7 linked regions of the Homo sapiens genome follow. The protein of the gene in region 1 interacts with the protein of each later gene in a pairwise test. Each region holds a gene or a part of one and is shown in the gene's direction. Other genes may lie near its edges.

Region 1 (2,251 bases):
ATCACCACCCACATGCGCACCACCCGTTGAGCCAGTCCTCAGGCCACCACCACCACCATCACCACCACCACCACCAAGGCTACGGTGGCTCTGGGCTTGCCTTCAACTCTGCCGACTGCTTGGATTACAAGGAGCCTGGCGCCGCTGCTGCTTCCTCCGCCTGGAAACTCAACTTCAACTCCCCCGACTGTCTGGACTATAAGGACCAAGCCTCATGGCGGTTCCAGGTCTTGTGAGCCCAGGAATGAAAGAGGAGAAGAAACGCAACTACCTGCGCCCTCCGTGGTCCCGATCCTGTTGCTGCTGCTGCACCGCCCGCCTTTGCCTCGTCTTCTCCAAAACTGAATTTTCACCCCCCAAAAAGATGTCCATTGCCTGCACTGCCGCCCCCATTTTTGTGCCACTTGCTTGGGGGGATGTGCAAACCCACCCTGCCCCTTGGATGGGGGGACCGGTGCTTCGGCTTGGCCTACACATTCTATACAGGAGAGATGTATTATTTCCCCCCTTCAGCCCCTACTAAACTCTTAAGCCTCCCCTTCCAGTCTTTCTGGACAGCTATTAAGCACTTGCAGCCTTCGGAGGCTCTGCGCTCTGATCCGCTGTTTGAGCCCAACACTTTAATTTATTCTTTCTGGACACTGGAGTCACTAACTGGCGTGTTTCTGCCCATTGGAGCACCCGCACACTACTCCAAATCAAAACCACTAAGAGTTCCTCCCGCGCAGACTGCTGCCCCTTCAGCTGCCCTCGATTTTGCTCCACGCCTGCCGGCCAGAGCCTCCCGGCGTTTCTTCCGCCCCAGCGGAGTGCGCTGGGGCGCGCCAGGGCTAGGCCCGCCGGAGGAGCGCGTCCCCAGCCTTCCGCGCACAGAGCCGCATCCCGCCCCGCCCTGCGCTGGACTGGTTCAAGCTTCCGCCTCGGCGGGAACGCTGTACATAGTCAGGTCCGTTCCAGGGACCACTTAAACTTTTTAGTTGCTGTTGGTTGGTTGAACTGAACATATCTTGTCTTAGCACCCAGGAAACAGAACTTTAAGATATATACAGCACATATATATATATATACATATATATATACACATATATAAAAAACAAAAGCAAAAAATATTTTCCCTCTGTCCGTCCCCCTTCTGCTCTTCCTCAATCAATGGCGCTTTTTCTTTTTCAGTTGTTGCAAAGCTGCCCTGCCCTCTTCACATCTTCTCCCTCTGTGTATTTATTGAAGAGAACCGCTTGGTTTCAGGAAGCTGGGCGCGGGATATCCGAAGTGTGGAGGAAACAGACAAGTCAGGGTACAGAGGTGGGGGTTGGGCAGGGGCGCAGGGCTGACCCCCTCACCCGGTCTAAGCACAGGGTCGCAGTTCCAGTTTACAAACCTAAAACAAGAAAACCAAAACCAGGGAACAAAACAACAAAACAAAACAAAATCCGTAAAAGTACAGCATTAGGGAAAAACAAACAAACCCAGGCCCCAAACCCAGTTCCAACTCCTCTGTCGGCTTCTCTCTTTCAACACCCTTGTTTTGTCTAGTGAGTTTTTAGTGCACCTTCGTTCTCCGAAATCTGCGGAGAGCCCGCGCGCCTGTGTATCAATTTTGGCTTTGGCCGCTTCGTCCAGTAGGTGGGAAAGTAATTTGTAAATTTGATTTGTCTGATGTGAAGATCACAAATTACTTGTTGAAATGTAAGGCAGTCCCCCTCCTCCTCTTTATCTACATTACTTCCCGAAAATAAATGCAAATTAATGAACGGCTTGTCAGTGTTGCTCTTCTGATTCCAGCCCGAGGTCCTGGTCTCGGGGGGCTAAAAGCGAGGGAAACTCCGTGTTAATAACCCGCGTGTTAATGACCTGCGTGAAGCTGGAGGCCAAAGGATGAGGCGGGAGGACTTGGCAAGAGAAGTCCCCAGAAACTTTCGCTTAGGGAGTGTCTCCCCCCACCCCCACCACGCCCCTCCGCGTCAGCCTGGCCTCTTCCCCCAGGCGTTTTGACCCCGCATCCCCCCTCGCCATCCAGGACAGAGACAGGTGTCAGGACTCAATTCCCGAAGCAATTCCTTTCTCTTCAGAGGCAGGAGCCTGGCACTGATTTCTTCACCCTAATTGCCTGCACCAGAAAGAAGAGGGGGAGGGGAAGAGGGTCGGGAGGCGGGAAAGGATAGCTCTGTAATGCTCTCAGAGCTGAGCCAAAAAGGAAAAGAAAGCAAAACGACAAAAAACTGATCCGTGTCCTGCATGTTGGCAGCAGACA
Region 2 (3,838 bases), on another chromosome or scaffold:
AGGGCCTGGGGTGCCCAGCTGGCGAGGGGGTCGAGGGCATGGGGCCAAGCAGACCCAGGAGGGGACCCAGTGGTGGCTTCCGAGGCATCCCCGCAGGCAGGATGCCCCTGCCACCTCACAGCACTGTCCTGTCCAGGGTCTGTTGGGCCCTGGTGATGAGTGGCCGGTGCCTTGGCCCCAGGGAGCTCATGTATGGCTCTCGTACCTGTCTTGCCAAGGGTGTGTCCGTGTGCTGTGTACATGCATGTGCCCGTTCACGCGGCATGTGCTTTATCCATGCTGCTGTGAGCCAGCCCAGGCTAGGCCCTGGGGGCCTGCGGTGGAGTAAGACAGGCACAGGCCAGGTGCAGTGGCTCATGCCTGTAGTCCCAGCACTTTGGGAGGGCAAGGTGGGCGGATCACCTGAGGTCGGGAGTTCGAGATCAGCCTGACCAATGTGCAGAAACCCTGTCTCTACTAAAAATACAAAATTAGCCAGGCGTGGTGGCGCATGCCTGTAATCCCAGCTACTCGGGAGGCTGAGGCAGGAGAATGGCTTGAACCTGGGAGGCGGAGGTTGCGTTGAGCCGAGATCGCGTCATTGCACTCCAGCCTGGGCAACAAGAGCAAAACTCCGTCTCAAAAAAAAAAAAAGAAAGAAAGAAAGAAAGACAGGCACAGACCCCATACAGTGTGTGGGGTGGAGGGACGTTTGAACAGAGACCCCAATAAGGGAACTGCTGGCCCTGGGGCGATGGCCAAGAGCTTCCCGGACAGCATGCGTGGGGGAAGAAGAGCAGGGGGCGGTGGCGGGGACGTCTCTGGGCATCCCTGTGAGGGTGGGAGTGGGGCTCCCAGATGGTAACAGATTTCCTAGGAGTGTAGGGGAGCTGGTGGATGTTTTCACACCTTGCAGAAGCCTGGCCCTATTCAGGCTTCAGGCCCTGGCTGATGAGAGGACAGCGCTTCTGGATCCAAGGTGGCGTCAGCTGACCCACGGGCAAGCTGGGGGTGGCCAGGGGGCAGTCGGGAAAGGGGGTGGGAGGAGCCCAGGGGCCTAGTTCTGTCAGGACGTTTGGGTGCACGATGTCTGCCAGCCATCCAAGTGCCCTGGAGAGAGGTCAGCCGGGTATGGATTTGGGTCCAGCACTGACAGGATGCTAGGAGCCAAGGCAAAGAAGCTGCTTCCCTTGAGACAACCGGGGATCAGGCTCCAGAACCTGAAGGAGTGTGGACACGGGTTTGGGGCTCTCACCTGCGTCAGCCGACGAGAGACACTGCTGACACGCCAGACCTGCAGCGTGTGACCCCATCGGTGGGACAGGGACAGGCCAAGATCAGGCCCAGGAGCAGGGTGGCCCTGTTCCCAGGCACATTCCCATGGGTGGCCCTGTTCCCAGGCACATTCCCATGGGTGGCCCTGTTCCCAGGCACATTCCCATGGGTGGCCCTGTTCCCAGGCACATGACCCTTCTGGCCTCCCAGGTGTTCAGGGATCTCCCAGCTCCTTGTGGCCCCTCATCTTGCCCCACCCCATCTCCCCCAGGGGAGCAGAGGCAGAAGGGGAGGTGGCATACCTGCTTCTCAACCTCATGTGGGGTGGGCATGGGTGGGTGGAGGAGGTTGCCCAGTGGGCCAGGGATGGGGAGGAGCACACCAGGAGCCGAAGGGCCCCTCCTGGAAGGCCAGAGACTCGCGGGCACTGGGTCACACTGCTGGAATGGAAGACGGCAGAGTCTGTGGTCTGGGCACTGTGGCAGGGACAGTAACCTGGACTGCAGATTCTGTGGGGAATTTGGGAGTGTGGGAGAGTGTGGGAAGAGCCAGCTCCAGGGGCTGCCCTCCTGCAGTGGGTGCCCATGTGTGTCAGGTGCCTGCAGGGGCTGCCCTCCTGCAGTGGGTGCCCATGTGTGTCAGGTGCCTGCCCATGTGCTGAGGGCCTGTGTGGCCGTGGAGGCGTGTGTGCCCACGGCAGCGCTGCTTCCTCTCTGCCACTAGGAACCAAGAGCGGCGGCGCGCGTGGCAGGCCTCCCGGGAGAGCAAGCTGCAGCCCCTCCCCAGCTGTGAAGTATGGTGAGTCCAGCCGGCTGGTGTGTGCGTGCTGGGGGGGCCCCAGACCGGGAGACTCGGGCCTGACATAGCCTGGCCCCCGTGCCCACAGTGCCACGCCAAGTCCTGAGGAGGTGCAGAGCTGGGCGCAGTCTTTTGACAAGCTGATGCACAGCCCAGCGGGACGCAGCGTGTTCCGGGCGTTCCTGCGGACAGAGTACAGCGAGGAGAACATGCTCTTCTGGTTGGCCTGCGAGGAGCTGAAGGCCGAGGCCAACCAGCATGTGGTAGACGAGAAGGCGAGGCTCATCTACGAGGACTACGTATCCATCCTGTCCCCCAAGGAGGTGCGCCAGACACCAGAACAGGCCGGGGGCCGCCTGCTCCAGGCACTAGGTGGGGAAGGCAGCTCCCGCACCCCCTGACCTCAGTGTCTTGTCCTGCAGGTGAGCCTGGACTCCCGTGTGCGGGAGGGCATCAACAAGAAGATGCAGGAGCCGTCCGCACACACGTTCGACGACGCGCAGCTGCAGATCTACACGCTCATGCACCGGGACTCCTACCCCCGCTTCCTCAGCTCTCCCACCTACCGTGCCCTGCTGCTGCAGGGGCCATCACAGTCCTCCTCCGAGGCCTAGGCCGCCCCCAGCAGCACAGACCCCGCCGCCTCCTACGGCCGACTCTGGGTTCCCTTCAGGTGTTGTTGTCGGCAGGGCTGTCAGGGCACATGCCTGGCCGGCTGGGGTCCCCACCCGCGGAGACGGTCCTAGACCCAGTGGGGAGTGCTGTGTCTCCTGGGTCTGCCCACCCGTGGCCAAGCAGGAACTCCAGGTGCAGGGCGGGCCTCCAGGTGCAGGGCGGGCCAGAAGCCCCCTCATCGGCCCGCAGCTGGCTGGCCCAGTGCTCCTGGCTGGGGGCTCTTGCGTGGTGAGAGTAGGGGTCCCCCCAGGAGCCATGCTGGACCCATGAGCCTCGCTGGGGCCTCCTCCCCAGGCAGCCAATGGGCCCCAGACAAGCCTTTGGTGGGGAACAGAACCTCCGCATCGTGTAGTTTTGTGACATAAGGAGACCTCCTACTTGAGCTGTCTGTACCCCAGAATCAAACACAGAACCTCAGAACCAGATTTAGGACCTCAGAATCCTGCACTCAAGGTGGCAGGACCCAATTTCTGTTTTATATGTTCATGAACTTTAAACCTGGAAACATGTCCTTACTAGGTGTTTTATCAAAAAAAAGTTTTCATATTTATCTCTATCCCTAACCCCCCAAAAATAGGATGTCTTATTATTGAAGATATTTTTAAAGCAAAGTCTCTACTCATTTTTGTCCAAGTCTGGGGAGAGACTGGAGAATGAGTGGCCCCAGACTCAGGGCTGGGGAGAAGTGTCCTTGTCCCAGGGCAGGGGCTCCAGTGCCCCTTGGAGGGGACACACAGCCGTGTGCTTGCCCTCTTCCCATGCCCTGGCCTCCACCAGACCCCTCCTCAGAACAGTGGTCCCAGTGGGTGGCTGTGCTTAACCCTGCCCGGGGCATGAGCTCCACGCCCTCGGCCTCAGCCTCCTTAGCTGAAAGTCGGGCCAGAACAGTGACCCACAGCACCTCAGAAGTCGAGAGGCAACAGGAGGTGCCGCCCAGGCCCAGCCGGACGGGGTCCCCAGAGGCAGGCTGGCTGGGGCAGGAGGGGCCACTTGGTGCCAGGCCCAATGTCATCTTTCTCATCTCACAGGCCCCATGAGTTGAGTGCTCACCAGCCCATCCCCTGCATTTCTGGGAAGTTAAGTGAGTTGAAGCTGAAATTGGCTCAGGGCC
Region 3 (3,500 bases), on another chromosome or scaffold:
GACTTCCACTTCTGTGATTACATGAAAGTCTCAATAGATATCTCTCTTAACAACATACCATTTTGTCTTCTCTTGGCTCCTGCAATTTTGATAACTCCAAAAGTCAGGAAATGTAAGTCAGCTCCCTCTTTATGAGATTTGCCAGCCACTCCCACAGTTCAGCATTCTGTCCTTAGCGCTGATATACTGAATGTGCTATTTAGGTTTGTGCAAAAGTTATTGTGGTTTTTGCCATTGAAAGTAATGGCAAAACTGCAATAACCTTTGCACCAACCTAATAAATGAGAAGCTAAGAACCTTGTTTGTGTATCAACTGCAGTTGTGTTTGCAATGGGAAGCAAAATATACAATAAACCACCCCCTGAAGGAAACATAGTGGCTCAAGTTTTCAAATGTATCTGGGTAAGTCCATAAATTGTTTTCTTGCCTTTTTCAATCAAAAGAAAGAGATGCTATGCTGAGAATATGGGCCTTCAAACGTGGGCATACATTTTTCTCAATGACCTCTATTCTATTTTCATGTTTTTTAACAAGCTAAGATTAACCAGTCTTCTTCTTATGCCTCTACTTAACCATTAAGTTAAAAAAAGTAATCATCTTTTTAAGTTGGCAAAAATCTTCTGAAATGTAATTATATATAGACAGATAACATTTTTTCTTTTTTGTTGTTATTTTTTGTTTTGAATGGCAAGTTCTTTCTTAAAGTGATAGATAAAATTATATCAGAAATATTCTGAAATTCAATGCCTGATTAGGTCAAAGAGTTGGAATAAGTCACTAGAAGTATGGTGTTTGAAGGAAGGTATAATAAGTTGGAAAAGGCAGAGGATGTTTTTCTCTTTGTCTCTCCCATGATGTCTACTCTCTGCCCTAGTTTGCTATTTCCAATCGTTTCAAGAACCGTTCTGGAGACATTCCAAAGCGACAGCACTGGCTAGACTGGGCGGCTGAGAAATATCCAGTAAGTTGGAAATGCAGAAACATCTTATGGCTTGATAGAGTCTTTCCTAATGTTCAAAATGATTCTATCCTACTGCATTCAACCTCCTCTCTACTGTTTTTTGGACACTTCTACTTTAAGCAAGAAAGCCATGTACAGAACTTCTAGCATTTCTGCCCATTCTTCCTCCTTTTCGCAGAAGCAGCTCATTATGGATGTAAAGGCACTGACCAGGGTACTATTCCTTTATATCCCATTGCCCATGTTCTGGGCTCTTTTGGATCAGCAGGTAAGAATAGTTCTTTTGGACATTACCGCTCCTTACAGCCACTTCCCTCTCACAGGAAAGGGATTTCTCATAACAGGATCTGTTTGCCCTAGGGTTCACGATGGACTTTGCAAGCCATCAGGATGAATAGGAATTTGGTGAGTAGAAGAGATTTTCCAGAGAAGTCTATTATTTTCTTCATCATCCATATTGGGGAAAAATTAATTTCTTTGTGATTTTGCCTGAAAACTAACAAGATCTTCAGAGAAGTGCTTTTAGCCTGAAGGTACCGTGTAGGCAAAGATAAAGAAAGCTAGTTTAGAAATAAAAACCAGAATCTTCTCTTTAGAAATCAGGAACATAAGGATGAGAAAGTTTCAATGTATACAAGGAAGTATTGAGAGGCTAGCAAATGATGTGATGCGTAACCTGGGATAGTGATTTTCTTCTGTCTAAGCCTATCCCAGAGTACAGCAGGGACAGGTTTGAGTGGCACTACTACGCAATTGGTCTATCTCTTCAACAAGGATCACAGCAGGGGACCTGTGGGAAATGGAATATTTTGTATGTATGGATATGGAAAGAATGAGAAGGTTATACGTATTATTTTCTCTTTTTCCAAACTCCATTCTTTAGCCCACTCAAATAAGGTACCATCTCTACTCTCAATTGTTCTTTTCCTAGATTAGTGTATTATTTTTCTATCTTCTCAGTTTTTGAAAAGACAGAGTAGAATGATACCAGGGTCTTATTAGTCAGTCTATTTGGAGCCTGCAAAATATAATTTTACCTTTTCCCTTCCTCTGGCTGTCTCTTATTTACCATGGTGGTCTTCTTGTTGACCCTCTGGAGAACAACTTTGGAAACACTATGTGTCAGGGAGAGTCTTCACCCTAACCATGATGTCTTGCCCTTCATATTATTACAACCTAGAACTGCAGTTGCTGAGATCAATAAAAATGCACTGACTCTATTCTCTTTCAAGTTAAGGAAAGCATAATACATAGAAAATAATTTCTCCCTTAGGCCCATCTGCCTGGCAAACATAGCCAGAAGCTTTCCCAAGTCTGTTCCCATCCCCCAAATAATCTTAACAGCAAAATAGTGGCCCTGAACCAAAGACCTGATGAATTTTCTCTCATATGTTTCTCACTTGCTAACTAGCAAAATTATTGATCTAGGCCAACATTTTTTTTTCTTTTCTTCAGACATCAACTAAATTAATTTGTTAAAATGTTTCAGGGGTTTTTTGTGCTTCAGCCGGACCAGATGCAGGTATGTGACTCTTCTATAGCCATGGGGACTTATTTGTTTCCTTATCTATGCCTCCACCTGCAGTATTACGATTAACAACCATAATTTGATGCTTTTCTCCTTGTACGCTGATAAGGGCCAAGCTTCGACATGAAAACATTCCCATTAAGCCCCACCCTTCTCCTTCACATCCCCTGTTAAGTACTTAACTTGCAACGGGTTAAGTGTAAGCATTGGATTTTTTTCCAAGTCAAGATAGTATAATCAAAATCTTGTAAAAGAAATTGTAAGGCTTATTTTGTGAGCAATGAAGTCATGAGAGGAAAGAGCTCACAATAAGGCTGGCAGAAAGACAGGCTCAGAGTGAAACTTGTCCCTTGGGATATTTGAAAGCTAAAATGCTATGCAAGGGAAATAGGGTCTTGGGTGTAAATGGACTGAGGAATGTGGAGTCATTCTGTACTTACAATGACAAAAGTGTGTGTAGATGTGAGACAGAGTGTAAACAAGCAAATGAGTGCAGTGCTCACACTCATGATAGGAGAATATTTGTAGCTAATCCTTTTTATCATGGTGTTACAGGTTCTAAATCCCCTTCTGGTTCTTATCTTCATCCCGTTGTTTGACTTTGTCATTTATCGTCTGGTCTCCAAGTGTGGAATTAACTTCTCGTAAGTGTTCACTATGTCTGTATGGATTACTCTAAATTGACTCAGTCTTTGCCCAGTTTGAAAAAGATTCAATGTCAGTATTTTTCTTAGTGAGGATTGGTTTTAGTTTATCATCTATCTGCTTCTATTTTTCCATGTTAGACTAACTGCCTATTGACCCTGAAAAATGTGAATTAGATATAATTAATGAGAGTCAAAGCCATTACTGTGGACTTAACTGTGTAATGGTGGTGGAGGGGCAGGTCTAGGTTTCATGCCAAACCAAAAATATGTGAAATTTAGCTCCTAAACCAACTTTCTTCTTTGTTCTTGAATGTTGTCTCTTCAAAGAAACTCAAGGCCTTTGATGACTACTAATCCCTTTAAA
Region 4 (3,500 bases), on another chromosome or scaffold:
ATTCGTTCCTTATCCTGGATATTGGCCTTTACATTTTTCTGTTGTATCCAAGGGTTCAACCTCTAGGGTGATGATCGTCCCTGTAAGGATTTTTGGAAAAATCTGCATTTTGGTGGAGGCTCCACCTGAGGTTGAGGGAAATGAAGAGATGGGTTAGACTGTGGACACAAGAGAGGTGACACAGGAGAGGGTGCTGGCCAGAGAGCAGCCCAAGAGCACACGCCCATAGATTTCTTAATTTGTATAAAAGTCATGTTGATAATTAATGACAGGAAGTCATTATCCAGAGAACTCAGATTAGACTACTGTTAAAAAGTACATGTGGCCAGGCGTGGTGGCTCACGCCTGTAATTCCCACACTTTAGGAGGCCAAGACGGGTGGATCACTTGAGCCCAGGAGTTCCAGACCAGCCTGGGCAACATAGTGAAACCCCGTCTCTTTAAAAAATGCAAAAAATTAGCTGGGTGTGGTGGTGCACACCTGTAGTCCCAGCTACTTGGGAGGCTGAGGCTGGAGAATCACCTGAGCCTGGGGACACTGAGGTTGCAGTGGGCCATGATCTTGCCTCTGCCCTCCAGCCTGGGCAACAGAGTGAGACCCTGACTTAAAAAAAAAAAAGGTATATGTATATTTTTCTCTATTCATCTTTTGATGACTCCAGAAGAATCTTACATGTATGGGGTCTTCCATTATACATTCATTGTGTTTTTACAAATACTTATTTCTAGTGACTACCCAGATATAATTCATATATCTCCTGCCATAAAGAAAGGTATAGATATTTCTTTGCATTTAAGGGGGACTTTACATACAGAGTTTAATTCTTCCTGACCTACTATAATCCCCGCAAATTTCAGTTGTTAGGACTGTTTAATGAATTAGAGTATTTCTAAAACTGAAACAAAGTTTTTCTGTGTTTGTTAGGTTTCAGTGAGGAGCTATTTGGTATTTTTGTGAGGTTTATGACAGCTTTTAACTTCATTTACTTGAGTTATAACTTACAGTAAAGTTTACACATCTTAAGAGTACAGCTTAGTAAACTTTATGTAAGTGTACCCCCACAGAACCACCATTTAGATCAGGGTTTCTCACCTCAGCACTGTGGAAATTTGGGGTTGAACAACTCCTTATTGAGGGGGGCTGTCCATTGCCCTGTAGGATGTTTAGCAGTATCCCTGATCTCCACCCACTGCATGATGCAGTAGCGCCCCTCCCTGGATGCCATGACCAAAAATGTCTCTAGACATTGCCAAGCGTCCTCTGGGGCCAAAATCACTCACCACGGCTCTAGATGAAGATATAGGATATTTTCAGCCCCCCGTGCTCTCCCAAAGATTCCGTCTCGCTTCCTTCCATTCAGGACTCACTCCCACAGGTAACCACTTTTATAACTTTTTTCACCATATACCAATTGTGCCTGCTTTTAAACTTCATATGTAATTAAACAGTGTATAATATTTGCATCTGGTTCTTTAGCTCAGCATTATGTTTTTGAGATTCATTTGTTGTTGTACGTGTTGTTATTTTTTAATGCTGTGCAGCGTTCCTTTGTGTGAATACACCACAGTGTATTCCATTCCACTACTGAAGAAATTTTAGTTGTTTCCAGTGTGGAGCTATTATGAATAATGCTAATATGAACATTCTCATTCATGTCTTTTGATGAACTTATTTCCTTTGGGTATATGCCCAGGATAAAAATTGTTGGGTAATAAGTCCAGTGTATGTTTAGCTTTAGTAGATACTGCAAAACTGTTTCATAGTCCAAATCAGTTTACATCCATCCCCACCAGCAAAGTGTGTATTGCTTCACATCCTCACCAGTACTTAGTATTGTTTGCCCATTTAACTTTAGTCATTCTGGTGGCTGTGTAGTGGTATCTCATTATGGTTTTAATTTGTATTTCCCTGGCTACTAATGATGTTAAGCATCTTCTTATATGTTTTTGGGTCAAGTCATTTGTATATTTTCTATTTAAAATGCCTCTACAAGCCTTTGGCCCATTTTTCTTTTTCTTTCTTTCTTTCTCTCTCTCTCTCTTTTTTTTTTTTTTTTTTTTTTTTTTTTTTTTTTTTTTTGAGACAGGGTCTCACTCTGTTGCCCAGGCTGGAAGGCAGTGGCACAATTAGCCGTGAAGCTGAGACTATAGGTGTCCACCACCACACTCAACTAATTTTTTTATTTTGGATATTGGGAAGGGGTAGAGATGGGGTTTCACCATGTTGCCCAGGCTGGTCTTGAACTTCTGTTTGGCCCATTTTTCTATTGTGCCGCTGATCTTTTATTATTGTTATTATTGATCTGTCACAGTTCTTTATATATTCTGGATACAAGCCATCTGTCAAAATTCTGTGTGTGTGTGTGTGTGTGTGTGTGTGTGTGTGCACGTGCTGCAAATCTCTTCTTCCAGTCTGGCCTGCCTTTACACTCTCATTCCATTATCTTTTGACTTTCCTAGTTTCTGTTGGAAAGTTATGCTTCTTTGAAGGTAGCCTGTTGTTATCCTCATAAAGTTTTTCTCTCATTTTTGACTTACCACAGTGAATATAATGTGCCTATATGTGGTTTTCATTTTATTTATTCTCCTTTGGGTTAACTGAGCTTCTTTTATCTGTGGATTGACGTCTTTCATCAACTTTGGAAAATTTTCACTCAATATCTCTTCAAATATGGCTTTGTCTGGTTTTCTTTCTTTCTCTCCTGCTTCTGGGACCCAAATCACAGATATGTTGGCCTTTTTCCTTCATGTCTCTTATTGTCTGATCTGTTTTGTTCATTTCGCATATCTTTCTGCTTCAATTTGAATATTTTCTGTTGACCTGTGTTTTAGTTAATTAAGCTGTCTTCCTCTGTGCCTGAGTCTTCTGTCAAATCATCTAGTGAGTTATTAATTTCAGAACTTGTTTTCTTCTAAATGTAGTATGCCAATTTGATTCATTTTAATACATTTAAATTATCTGATGAAATTTCCCATCTTTTCATCAGTTTAGTCCATCTAATTCTTATCTACTAAATCCAATGAGATCATCTGTGTGCCTGTATCCATTTTTTTATTCATCACATTTTTATCTCTCTTCACATATCTAGTAATTTTTATTATATGTAGACATTGTATATAAAGAAACTGTGTAGGTTCTGGTAATTTCTTCCACCAGCAAGGATTGAATCTCCCTTGGAGGGATTTCCTGTCTAAGGATGAAGGACTGAAGGGCTGATCACTTCAGGCCAGCAGGTATTAGAATGGGTCAGATCTGGTAACAGTTTTGGGGGTTTTTTTGTTTTGACATGGAATCTCCCTCTGTCACCCCTAGAATGGAGTACATTGGCACCATTATAACCTAGAATTCCTGGGCTCAAGCAGTCCTCCCACTTCAACCTCCTGAGTAGCTGGGATTACAGGCACTTGCCAATTCACCTGACCATTTTTTACAAATGTTTTGTAGAGATGGGGTCTCGCTATGTTACCCAGACTGGTGGCTGCAGTTTTAATAAGATTTA
Region 5 (3,500 bases), on another chromosome or scaffold:
CGGTGGCTCACGCCTGTAATCCCAGCACTTTGGGAGGCCGAGACAGGCGGATCACGAGGTCAGGAGATCGAGACCATCCTGGCTAACACGGTGAAACCCTGTCTCTACTAAACAAAATACAAAAAAATTAGCTGGGCGTGGTGCGGGCGCCTGCAGTCCCAGCTACTCGGGAGGCTGAAAGGCAGGAGAATGGCGTGAACCTGGGAGGCGGAGCTTGCAGTGAGCCAAGATCCCACCACTGCACTCCAGCCTGGGAGACAGAGCGAGACGCGAGACTCCGGCTCAAAAAAAAAAAATTTATTTGCCTGCAAATGGATTTACTTTATCCTCGTTCTTAAAGGACTTTTTTTCCCTTAGGTGTGTAAGATTTTAGGTTGACAGTATTTTGTCTCTGCACTTTGCAAACAACGTTCTGTCTCTGGGCATGGGCAGCCGTAGGGTCTGAGCAGGAGCCTTGGTTTTTGGTGCTTGTGCTCTGATGGGCTGACATGTATCCTCAGCCTGTTTAGAGTTTGAGGCCTCTTGGATCTGTGGCTTGAGGCCTTCATCATGTTTCTTCCAGTGTTGTTTCTGCCCCGTTCCTGCTCCTCCAGGGACCCCGAGAGCCTGACGTTCAACCTCTTGAAACTCCGTCATCTGTTTGTCTTTCCTGTTTCCTGATGGATATTCCCTCTGGTGTCTTTCAGTTCATGGATTCTCTTCTGGTTATGTGTCATATGGTGTTAAATTCATCTGTTGAATTCTTTTTTTTTTTCTTTTTTTTTTGAGATGGAGTTTCGCTCTCATTGCCCAGGCTGTAGTGCAGTGGTGCGATCTCAGCTCACCTTGAACCTCCGCCTTCTGGGTTCAAGCGATTCTCCTGCCTCAGCCTCCCGAGTAGCTGGGATTACAGGCGTGTGCCACCACACCCAGTTAATTTTGTATTTTTTTTTAGTAGAGACGGGGGTTTCACCATGTTGGTCAGGCTGGTCTTGAACTCCTGATCTCAGGTGATCCACCCGCCTTGGTCTCCCAGAGTGCTGGGATTACAAGAGTGAGCCACTGCGCCTGGCCAAAATTTTGTTTTTAAATTAGCCTGGCGTGGTGGGTGCGTGCCTATAGTCCCAGCTATTTGGGAGGCGGAGGTGGAGGCGGGAGGACGCTTGAGCCCAGGAGTTTGAGTGAGCCATGATTGCGCCACTGCAGCCTGGGTGACAGCCCCACCCTGTCTCTCAATTTTATTTATTTATTTTTTTTTGAGACACAGTCTCGCTCTGTCGCCCAGGCTGGAGTGCAGTGGCGCGATCTCGGCTTACTGCAACCTCCGCCTCCCGGGTTCAAGCAGTTCTCCTGCCTCAGCCTCCCGAGTAGCTGGGATTACAGGCGCACACCACCACATCCGGCTAATTTTGTATTTTTAGTAGAGACGGGCTTTTTCCGTGTTGGTCAGGCTGGTCTTGAATTCCCAACCTCAGGTGATCCACCCGCCTCAGCCTCCCAAAGTGCTGGGATTACAGGCATGAGCCACCGCACCCGGCAAGTTTTAAATGAATAAATTAAATTTAAAAGAAGTCTAGTTTTTTGCCAATTTTTGTTTTTGACACTCTCGCTCTTGTTGCCCAGGCTGGAGTGCAATGGCACAATCTCAGCTCACTGCAATCTCCGCCTCCCGGGTTCAAGTAATTCTGCCTTAGCCTACTGAGTAGCTGGGATTACAAGCACCCACCACCATGCCCAGCTAACTTTTGTATTTTTAGTAGAGACAGGGTTTCACCGTGTCGGCCAGGATGGTCTTGAACTCCTGACTTCAGATGATCTGCCCACCTTGGTCTCCCCAAGTGCTGGGATTAAAGGTGTGAGCCACTGTGCCCAGCCCAGTATTTTTTTGTTTGTTTTTACCGAGATGGAGTCCCGCCCCATTGCCCAGGCTAGAGTGCAGTGGCGTGATCTCAGTACACTGCAACCTCCACTTCCCAGGTTCAAGCGATTCTCCTGCCTCAGCCTCCTGAGCAGTTGGGATTACAGGCACGCACTTCCACACCTGGCTTACTTTTGTATTTTTAGTAGAGACGGGGTTTCACCATGTTGGCCAGGCTGGTCTCCAATTCCTGACCCCAAGGGATCCACCTTAGGCCTGGCCGCCAACATTCTGAACCTTGTCTTTTCTCTGTCATGTATTCAAAGTCCACGCTGGAAACTCCAATTTCAGGTCCCTTCAGTTTTTTGTCCGTTGTCTTTCGTTCTTTGTCCACGTTGCCCGTCCCTTGTGAACTGGATGCTGTGTGTGAGCAACAGGGACTGAAAAGCTCAGTGCAGTGCCCTCGCTCCCCGCCCCGCCTCCCTCCCTGCCCCCGCCCCCCTCACTCCCTGCCCCTGCCTCCCTCGCTGCCCGCCTCCCTCCCTCCCTCCCCGCCCCCACCTCCCTCGCTCCCGCCCCCGCCCCCTCGCTCCCCTTCCCCCACGCTCCCCACCCCCGCCTCCCGCGCTTCCCGTCCCCCGCCTCCCTCACTCCCCGCCCCTCTGCTGTGAGGACACAGCCTGAGCGCAGCCCTGTCCTCCACAGGTAGATGATGAGCTGGAGATCAAGGCCTACTATGCAGGCCACGTGCTGGGGGCAGCCATGTTCCAGATTAAAGTGGGCTCAGAGTCTGTGGTCTACACGGTCAGTGGAAGGGCTTGAGGCTTGGGAGGGGCTGCTGGGGTGGGAGGCACCCTCCTCATGGCATCCTTGATCGTTCACCAGGGTGATTATAACATGACCCCAGACCGACACTTAGGGTAAGTAGGCTGAGGTGTCTTTTTGTCCCGTGGGCCCCCCTGGAGCTCAGGACCCTTGCAGGTGTCAGGGTGCCAGCCCTTGAGTGGCCAGCCTGGCAGTGTCTCCCATGTCCTGTGCGGCCTGGAGAGCCCCCTTCGTTCTGGGCCCAAATGCGCGAAGGCACAGGGTCCAGGCAGGGGCCTCTGTCCCTCCTTCTCTCTCTTCCCAAGTCTCTGGGTGGGTGCCTCTGTCTCGCTCTTCCGAAGTGTCTGGGTGGGTGCCTCTGTCTCTCCTCTCTCTTCCCAAGTGTGCTGCCCACAGCATTTTACCAGCTGGCTCTTTCCAGCCAGAGTGACCTAGGAAGGCGGCTGGGCGTGGTACTGGGGTCCAGCTTGTCACACCCAGCCCTGCAACCGTGGGGACAGTGCATCGTGGCTCACACCCCCACCCCCGTGTTCCAGAGCTGCCTGGATTGACAAGTGCCGCCCCAACCTGCTCATCACAGAGTCCACGTACGCCACGACCATCCGTGACTCCAAGCGCTGCCGGGAGCGAGACTTCCTGAAGAAAGTCCACGAGACCGTGGAGCGTGGTGGGAAGGTAGCTGCAGCAGGGGTGGGGACATGGGCCCTCGGCCATGCTGGGCTGGTCTTTCTGGCAGGCTTGGCTGCCCTTGGCATGGGTCAGGGTCTCAGGGTGGGGGGTACTGCATTTTCAGGCAGGGAGGGAAGAAGATTTGCTCAACATTGAGGAGGAAAACTCA
Region 6 (3,383 bases), on another chromosome or scaffold:
CTTGTGCTCGGTGGCCCCTGGCCCGAGGACCCCAGATGGGTGGCGGAGAAACGCAGGGGATAGAGACTAGCCCCCTAGCCGGGCTCCGTGGGCCCGGAGTGGATTCAAGGACCGGTGGCAGAGGGCGACTGCAAGTTGGCCCCGCAAAGCCAACAAGGGGAAGGGTAGGGTAGTGACGACATCACCTGGTCCTTCAATAGCCTCCCGGGAGGCTTCAGGAACTCACATCTCTTTCCCTTGACGAACAACGCAGGTGGTTTGCTGAATTAAGTGTTCCCGCCCCAAATTGAGATACAACGGGCTTTTTAGCCAGATTGGCGCAGACTGGGAGTTAAATCCAGCATTTTCCCGGCAAAGCTGAGCCTGGCCGCCGCGGAGCCCTCTTTCCGCTGTGCGGTGCCTCCGGCTCCGATCGCGGGCCCGGCGCCCCGGGACGCGCCGCCGAGGGTAGCTACGCGGCCGGGCTGCGGCCTCTCCCGGAGAGCCTGCGTGCGTGGTCTCTCTAGCTTGCTGCCCGCCGGCCAGGAAAACTCTGGGGACAAGCTGGAGCTGGCGGAGGTTCCCATCCGGCCACCCTTCCCGTCTGATTTCCTGAGCTGACGGTCACCGCCGGCGTTCGGGGACCAGCGGTTCCCTGTGCAAAGGGCTCGTTTCTCGATCGCCGCTGGATAGACCGCAACCGGGTTCTCAGAAAACACCCGAGCTACAGACCGCATGTAGCTTTAAACAGTTTTTAAAATGCGATTATGCTTGCGTCTTTATGAAAGCACATGGATGCAGTTATACGTATGCATTAAAAAACACAAACAATTCTGCATTGATTGCAAAGGAGCGCTTTCTGGTGGCAATGTAAACGGTCTAGTTTGAGACCCGTGATGACACACGTGAACTGAGTTGCCAAACTCATAGAAACTCCACACGGTAGATCTGTACATTGTGTCCCGTGTTAATTGTACGTCAACTGAAAAATCAGAACTTACATGAAAAGTACGAAGTGCCACTGCATACACGCATATCTAAAAGCCGGTAAGATGCGGCTATAGATGAGCACATTTACAGCAATGAAGGGCCACTCTGCCGGGTTGCTAGCTTATTCAAGCTTCGCATCGCCGGGAAAGGGATGGAAAGGCAGCTGACATCACTCGGGGCGGGGCCGTGAGTCCTGTGAAAAGTCGATGGGACTCGAGCAGCAGCCTCAGCTGCCTTGCACAGCCTCGCAATGAGCTGCCACAACTGCTCCGACCCCCAGGTCCTTTGCAGCTCCGGGCAGCTGTTCCTGCAGCCCCTCTGGGACCACCTGAGGAGCTGGGAGGCCCTCCTACAGTCGCCCTTCTTCCCGGTCATCTTCTCCATCACCACATACGTGGGCTTTTGCCTGCCCTTCGTGGTCCTGGATATCCTGTGCTCCTGGGTGCCCGCCCTGCGGCGCTACAAGATCCACCCTGACTTCTCGCCATCCGCGCAGCAGCTGCTACCTTGCCTGGGGCAGACCCTCTACCAGCATGTGATGTTTGTGTTCCCCGTGACGCTGCTGCATTGGGCCCGCAGCCCGGCCCTCCTGCCCCACGAAGCTCCCGAGCTGCTCCTGCTGCTGCACCACATCCTGTTCTGCCTGCTACTCTTCGACATGGAGTTCTTCGTGTGGCACCTGCTGCACCACAAGGTGCCCTGGCTGTACCGCACCTTCCACAAGGTGCACCACCAGAACTCGTCCTCGTTCGCGCTGGCAACGCAGTATATGAGCGTCTGGGAACTGTTTTCTTTGGGCTTCTTCGACATGATGAACGTCACACTGCTCGGGTGCCACCCGCTCACCACCCTGACCTTCCACGTGGTCAACATCTGGCTTTCCGTGGAGGACCACTCCGGCTACAACTTCCCTTGGTCCACTCACAGACTGGTGCCCTTCGGGTGGTACGGGGGTGTGGTGCACCACGACCTGCATCACTCTCACTTTAACTGCAACTTCGCTCCGTACTTTACACACTGGGACAAAATACTGGGAACGCTGCGGACTGCATCTGTCCCAGCGCGGTGATGTGGCTGCGGTGGGTGCCCCTAAGACTCGGGACTGCTGTGCCTTTCACACTTGAATGAAGAGAAACACCTGAGCTATATATTTTTTTAAAGCAACTAACTTATTGCTTTATGTTTATCTATGAAAACCATAGATAAAATCTGATGCATTTTTGTAATCTGACAAAGTAATTTACATACTGTTTGTGTATCAATACAATTTTGTGTTCTTGGTATTCTTAGTCTAGCTCACCTCAATAGCCTTGAATCCTGCATATGAATTAGACATTCATCACTGGCATATTTAGAATATCTCTAAAAGGACTTGTTTGTAGAATAAGGAATTTTCTATGTTTCAAAGTGTTCTAAAACCTGGCTAAAAGAATGTATTTTTGTGGATGGTGTTGACTTCTGACTCTAAAAGCAATCAAACATGTTTCTGCTGGACAGTGACCAAGAATTATAGTACCTTCTTATATTTTTTTATAGAACTGTATATTTATTTTGAAAGAAATGTTATTCGTGCTTTAAAAAGGAAAAAAAACCATGAATCAAATAAGTATTGACTTCCGTTTCACTGGTATTTTGACTGATAAAAAAGGGAAGAGGGAGCGGGCATACCAAGTGTCCTTCTAAGCCTCCATCAGCCTCACCATGGAAAGAGAGGAATCTGGGTGTAGGGTGTTCTGTTGGGGGTTGTTAGAGAAAAGGAGGCAGGAGAAGGGGCTCTGTTTGTTGTGCTCTAGCAATTTCATGGAGGAAAAACACGCTAATATTCTTAATGCTTTTCAGCTGATTTCTGTATAACAGGCAAATGATAGGATTACTCTGTAAAGTTTCATAGAAAGATTAACGCTGAGCAGTCAATCATTTTATTATTTGTGGGAATGGATTAGGGGAAGAACAGAATTGGAGGCGTGCCTTGCTTTGCAAAACTGGTGAGTCAATAGTATACACTAGAGTGGCTGATAGATGTGCAAGGGGATTCTGAGGAAGCCCCTGTTTTCATGAATCCATCCATAGCTACTGCAAATGAACATCAAAGCATTGCTTCTGAAATCTGGAATTTCTGTATATTCAGTTTTCTTAATTAAAACATACATGCAGCAGGTACAGCCCTTTCTAAAAGAAAGATAAAGTGAAATTTGGCCCTGGATCCCTGATTCCTCATGTGGAAAAGGAGGAGGTGTCCCAGATGTTCTTGCAGATGACAGTAAATATTCCTATTATTAACCACACACCCATCACCCATCACTCACCCCATCTAACTCCTGCCTATTCATTTTAGTTTTGTTTTTGGAATATATATAGTGTAGAGTTAAAAATCAAGACAATTTAGACACAATATAAAGAATGGCAGCTTTGTG
Region 7 (3,500 bases), on another chromosome or scaffold:
TTCACCATGTTGGCCAGGCTGGTCTTGAACTCCCAACCTCCAGTAATCCGCCTGCCACAGCCTCCCGAAGTGCTCGGATTATAGGCGTGAGCCACCGCTCCCGGCTAGATCTGTTCTCTTTCTGTCATCACTCTCTTCCCTCCGTCGGCCACCCTGGATGGGCCCTGTGTCCCACATTCTCTTTTTTTTTTTTGAGACGGAGTCTTGCTCTGTCACCCAGACTGGAGTGCAGTGGCCTGGGTTCACGCCATTCTCCTGCCTCAGCCTCCCAAGTAGCTGGGACTACAGGCACCCGCCACCACGCCTGGCTAATTTTTTTGTCTTTTTAGTAGAGATGGGGTTTCACCATGTTAGCCAGGATGGTCTCGATCTCTTGACCTCATGATCCGCCCGCCTCGGCCTCCCAAAGTGCGGGATTACAGGCGTGAGCCACCGTGCCCGGCCGTGTCCCACATTCTCACACGCATGAATGGATTGGAGCTGTGGTTGGCACAGTGAAGCCCCTCTGCACCCCAACACACACAATCTCCAGTGTGAGCCCTGACCCCCTCGGCTAAGGTTCACACCTGCTGTGCCCAGCACCTGACATCTGAGTGCTCAGAGGTGCCAAGTGCTGTGCTGAGGGCTTTGAAGGTGATTTCTCCTCAGTCCTGGACAATCCCAGGAGGGCCAGGTGTTATTACATCCATTGTACACACCAGGAAGTGGGCTCCTCTGAGGTGCAGGGCCCCGCCCAAGGCCATACAGTTAGTGGGGTAGAGCTTTGATGTCCACTATAGGGGTGTCCACCTTCAAGGCTTTGAAGTAGAGCCCTTCAGTGCCTCAGTGGGAGACCCGCTGCCGGGTGCTCTCCTGCCCTCCTCCTGGGGTGGGAGAGGATGAGGGAAGGGTAGAAAGGATGTGTTGTGTTGACAGAGCCTGGGACACCCAGCCCACTCCTCTGGCCAGGCATCCCACAGGAAGTGGGAGGTATCGGAGCTGTAGCACCACCTGGGGCTCATGTGGGGCTGGTGGGTGTGCTGGGCCCTGGTACAGGAGCTAGGAGCACCTGGGTTCTGGGCCTGGGTGTGTGGGGGCTGGGCCTTCCTCTTCTGAGGCCTTGGTGCCACCAGAGGAGCTGCTCCTTCATGTTCAGCGGCTGCTCCCTAGCAACCCAGCGCAGCTTTGCATAAGCAATGAGGCCTCGCCAGCTCTGGGCAGGAGGGGTTCCCTGGGGAGGGTGGAGCTGACTTGGGGGCTGCTGCCACTGCTATAACTGGGCTCTTCCCCCCTGTCCTTCATGCCTGCCTGTCTCTTCCTCCTGGGTTCAAATGGCCCATTGGTGGAGGATGAGGAAGGAGAGAGGGGAGGGGAGTGCCAAAGCCTGTGACCTGAAATGCCCCCAGCTCACCTGGGATGATTCCATGTTCTCCCCACAGCCATGGGCCTAGGACAGTCCCAGCAGCTCCTGAGTGCCCCTTCCTAGGGCCTGAGCCCCTTTTTCAGAAGTCCTGGTATCTGATGTATGTCCTCCTGTCTCCATCCCCAGTTCTGGCATAAAGCATGCTTCCATTGCGAGACCTGCAAGATGACACTGAACATGAAGAACTACAAGGGCTACGAGAAGAAGCCCTACTGCAACGCGTGAGTCCTGTTCTGGGCAGGGGGCTGGGTGGGCACCTTGGCTCCCTCCCCGAGTGAGTTCTTCCTTTCCTTCCAATAACCGCAAGGTGACATTGGCGAACACTTCCATCCCCTACTTGAACATCACAGTTTGTCCTCACAACAGCTGAATGAAGCAAGCACTTTTTATCCCCATTTAAAGTGCTTTTATCCCCCATTTAAAGTGCATTTAAAGTACAGATGAGGAAACTGGGGCTTAGGGAAGGGAAGAGACTCTCAAGGTGGGATGGCTAGGGCAAGACAGGCTCTAACCCAATTTCGGGCAGTAAGGCGAGCACGTTTCTTTCCACTGTCCCCTGCTACAAAAGAGGGGGCTTTCCTCGTGGTCTTTCAAGAATGAGTGACGTGTCTGTTGTATTTGGGGTTGAGGACTTTGTTCTGTTTACCTTCCCTTATTTCTCTCCTCAAAATCGACAGTTTCCTTCTCTCACCTGGGTACTTCTAGGCTTTGGGGGCTCCTTCCTCCAGTGGTTCCTTCAAGAAAACTCTCTGGAAGCCTCATGCCAGCCCTTTTGGTGTTCATTTTTTGAGAATGGGCAGGGGTGCATAAAGGGTGTTGCCTGGGCCAGATAGATCTCTTCCCTGCCTGGTGAGGGAGGCTGTGGAGACTGTTTCTTTTGAGTATAGTCATCTTGAGTATAGTGCAGCTCTGTTCCTTCTGCACTGGGACCTGCAGCAGCTGACGGTAGGGAGGGAGTATAGAGGTGGGGTCCCCCATCCCAGAGCCTGGAGGAATACCTCCCCTCCCATCCCATCCCATCCCATCCCATGCAATCCCAGAAAGTACAGCAATTTTCCATCTTCCAATTGACCTTGTGAGTAGCAAGTACAAACTCAGTGTTGGGGCCTCACAGCCGCCTCCACCTGCGAGGTGGAGGCTTTGGAAGGTCAAGTCACTTATAAGTAATGATGTAATGATAATTTCTTTTTCTTTTAATTTGCTTTTTTTTTTTTTTTTGAGTCAGAGGACTCATCACCCAGGTTGGAGTGCAGTGGCGCGATCTTGGCTCACTGCAACCTCCGCCTCTTGGATTCAAGCGATTCTTGTACCTAAGCCTCCTGAGTAGCTGGGATTACAGATGCATGCTACCATGCCCAGCTAATTTTTGTATTTTTTAGTAGAGACCGGGGTTTCACCGTGTTGGCCAGGCTGGTCTCGAACTCCTGACCTCAAGTGATGCACCGCCTCAGCCTCCCAAAGTGCTGGGATTACAGGTATAAGCCACCTCGCCCAGCCTTAATTCGATTTTTTTTTTAATTTTAACTTTTTTTTTTTTAACTTCAACCAACTCAAGTAATGGTAATTTCAGTGTTCACATGAATTTAGGATCTGACTTGAGTCCAGTTTTTTTTTTTTTTCTCTTAATTCTCAGTCAGGAGGCTCTTTGCAGCTGAAGTTCACCCAGGGAAAAAAAAATTTGGGACTTGTCTAAAAAGGGGGCTTAAACCTCCAGCCTTACCCCTAACCTTACCCCAAACCTTCCTTGCTTCCTTACCCCCTCCCGTTCCCTGGCTAAGACCACTCTTTCATCTTTTTAGGGGCTCGCTCATTCAGCAGACATTTATTGCCTGCCTGCTGCTATAATACATACTAACCTGCACCAGGTGCTGGGAAAACAGATTCCTGATAAAAATCTCAAGCCCAAGAAGCAACATGAAGTTGTCCCTTCTGGAAGAAGGAGGGCACTGGGCAGGTTATCTGGGTAAAGGAAGGGTTGCAGCTCTGTCCTGGCCCCTCCTTCAGCTGCCCCTTCTCTTCTATTAATTTCTACTGTTCCTCTTCCCCCTACCAACCCCTCCCACCCCCACAAGGGAAATGGGACATTCTTCGAATTCTT

Evidence for each region.
Region 2: the proteins of OTX1 (region 1) and RGS19 interact in binary tests that used the Homo sapiens proteins (3 or more experiments, as listed by UniProt).
Region 3: the proteins of OTX1 (region 1) and SLC15A2 interact in binary tests that used the Homo sapiens proteins (3 or more experiments, as listed by UniProt).
Region 4: the proteins of OTX1 (region 1) and RGS20 interact in binary tests that used the Homo sapiens proteins (3 or more experiments, as listed by UniProt).
Region 5: the proteins of OTX1 (region 1) and INTS11 interact in binary tests that used the Homo sapiens proteins (3 or more experiments, as listed by UniProt).
Region 6: the proteins of OTX1 (region 1) and CH25H interact in binary tests that used the Homo sapiens proteins (3 or more experiments, as listed by UniProt).
Region 7: the proteins of OTX1 (region 1) and LASP1 interact in binary tests that used the Homo sapiens proteins (3 or more experiments, as listed by UniProt).

Annotation. Positions count from the first base shown.
Region 1 is NC_000002.12:63,056,081-63,058,331, forward strand, and holds the end of OTX1 (homeobox protein OTX1), read left to right. Parts: coding exon 1-236; 3' UTR 237-1,751; downstream 1,752-2,251. UniProt on the Homo sapiens protein: Probably plays a role in the development of the brain and the sense organs. Can bind to the BCD target sequence (BTS): 5'-TCTAATCCC-3'.
Region 2 is NC_000020.11:64,072,681-64,076,518, reverse strand, and holds the end of RGS19 (regulator of G-protein signaling 19), read left to right. Parts: intron 1-1,977; coding exon 1,978-2,052; intron 2,053-2,140; coding exon 2,141-2,375; intron 2,376-2,474; coding exon 2,475-2,666; 3' UTR 2,667-3,338; downstream 3,339-3,838. UniProt on the Homo sapiens protein: Inhibits signal transduction by increasing the GTPase activity of G protein alpha subunits thereby driving them into their inactive GDP-bound form. Binds to G-alpha subfamily 1 members, with the order G(i)a3 > G(i)a1 > G(o)a >> G(z)a/G(i)a2.
Region 3 is NC_000003.12:121,921,901-121,925,400, forward strand, and holds part of SLC15A2 (solute carrier family 15 member 2), read left to right. Parts: intron 1-319; coding exon 320-402; intron 403-874; coding exon 875-961; intron 962-1,139; coding exon 1,140-1,229; intron 1,230-1,321; coding exon 1,322-1,366; intron 1,367-2,450; coding exon 2,451-2,483; intron 2,484-3,044; coding exon 3,045-3,133; intron 3,134-3,500. UniProt on the Homo sapiens protein: Proton-coupled amino-acid transporter that transports oligopeptides of 2 to 4 amino acids with a preference for dipeptides. Transports neutral and anionic dipeptides with a proton to peptide stoichiometry of 2:1 or 3:1.
Region 4 is NC_000008.11:53,887,372-53,890,871, forward strand, and holds part of RGS20 (regulator of G-protein signaling 20), read left to right. Parts: intron 1-3,500. UniProt on the Homo sapiens protein: Inhibits signal transduction by increasing the GTPase activity of G protein alpha subunits thereby driving them into their inactive GDP-bound form.
Region 5 is NC_000001.11:1,314,661-1,318,160, reverse strand, and holds part of INTS11 (integrator complex subunit 11), read left to right. Parts: intron 1-2,542; coding exon 2,543-2,641; intron 2,642-2,722; coding exon 2,723-2,757; intron 2,758-3,198; coding exon 3,199-3,337; intron 3,338-3,500.
Region 6 is NC_000010.11:89,205,129-89,208,511, reverse strand, and holds CH25H (cholesterol 25-hydroxylase), read left to right. Parts: upstream 1-1,194; 5' UTR 1,195-1,219; coding exon 1,220-2,038; 3' UTR 2,039-2,883; downstream 2,884-3,383. UniProt on the Homo sapiens protein: Catalyzes the formation of 25-hydroxycholesterol from cholesterol, leading to repress cholesterol biosynthetic enzymes.
Region 7 is NC_000017.11:38,876,558-38,880,057, forward strand, and holds part of LASP1 (LIM and SH3 domain protein 1), read left to right. Parts: intron 1-1,528; coding exon 1,529-1,623; intron 1,624-3,500. UniProt on the Homo sapiens protein: Plays an important role in the regulation of dynamic actin-based, cytoskeletal activities.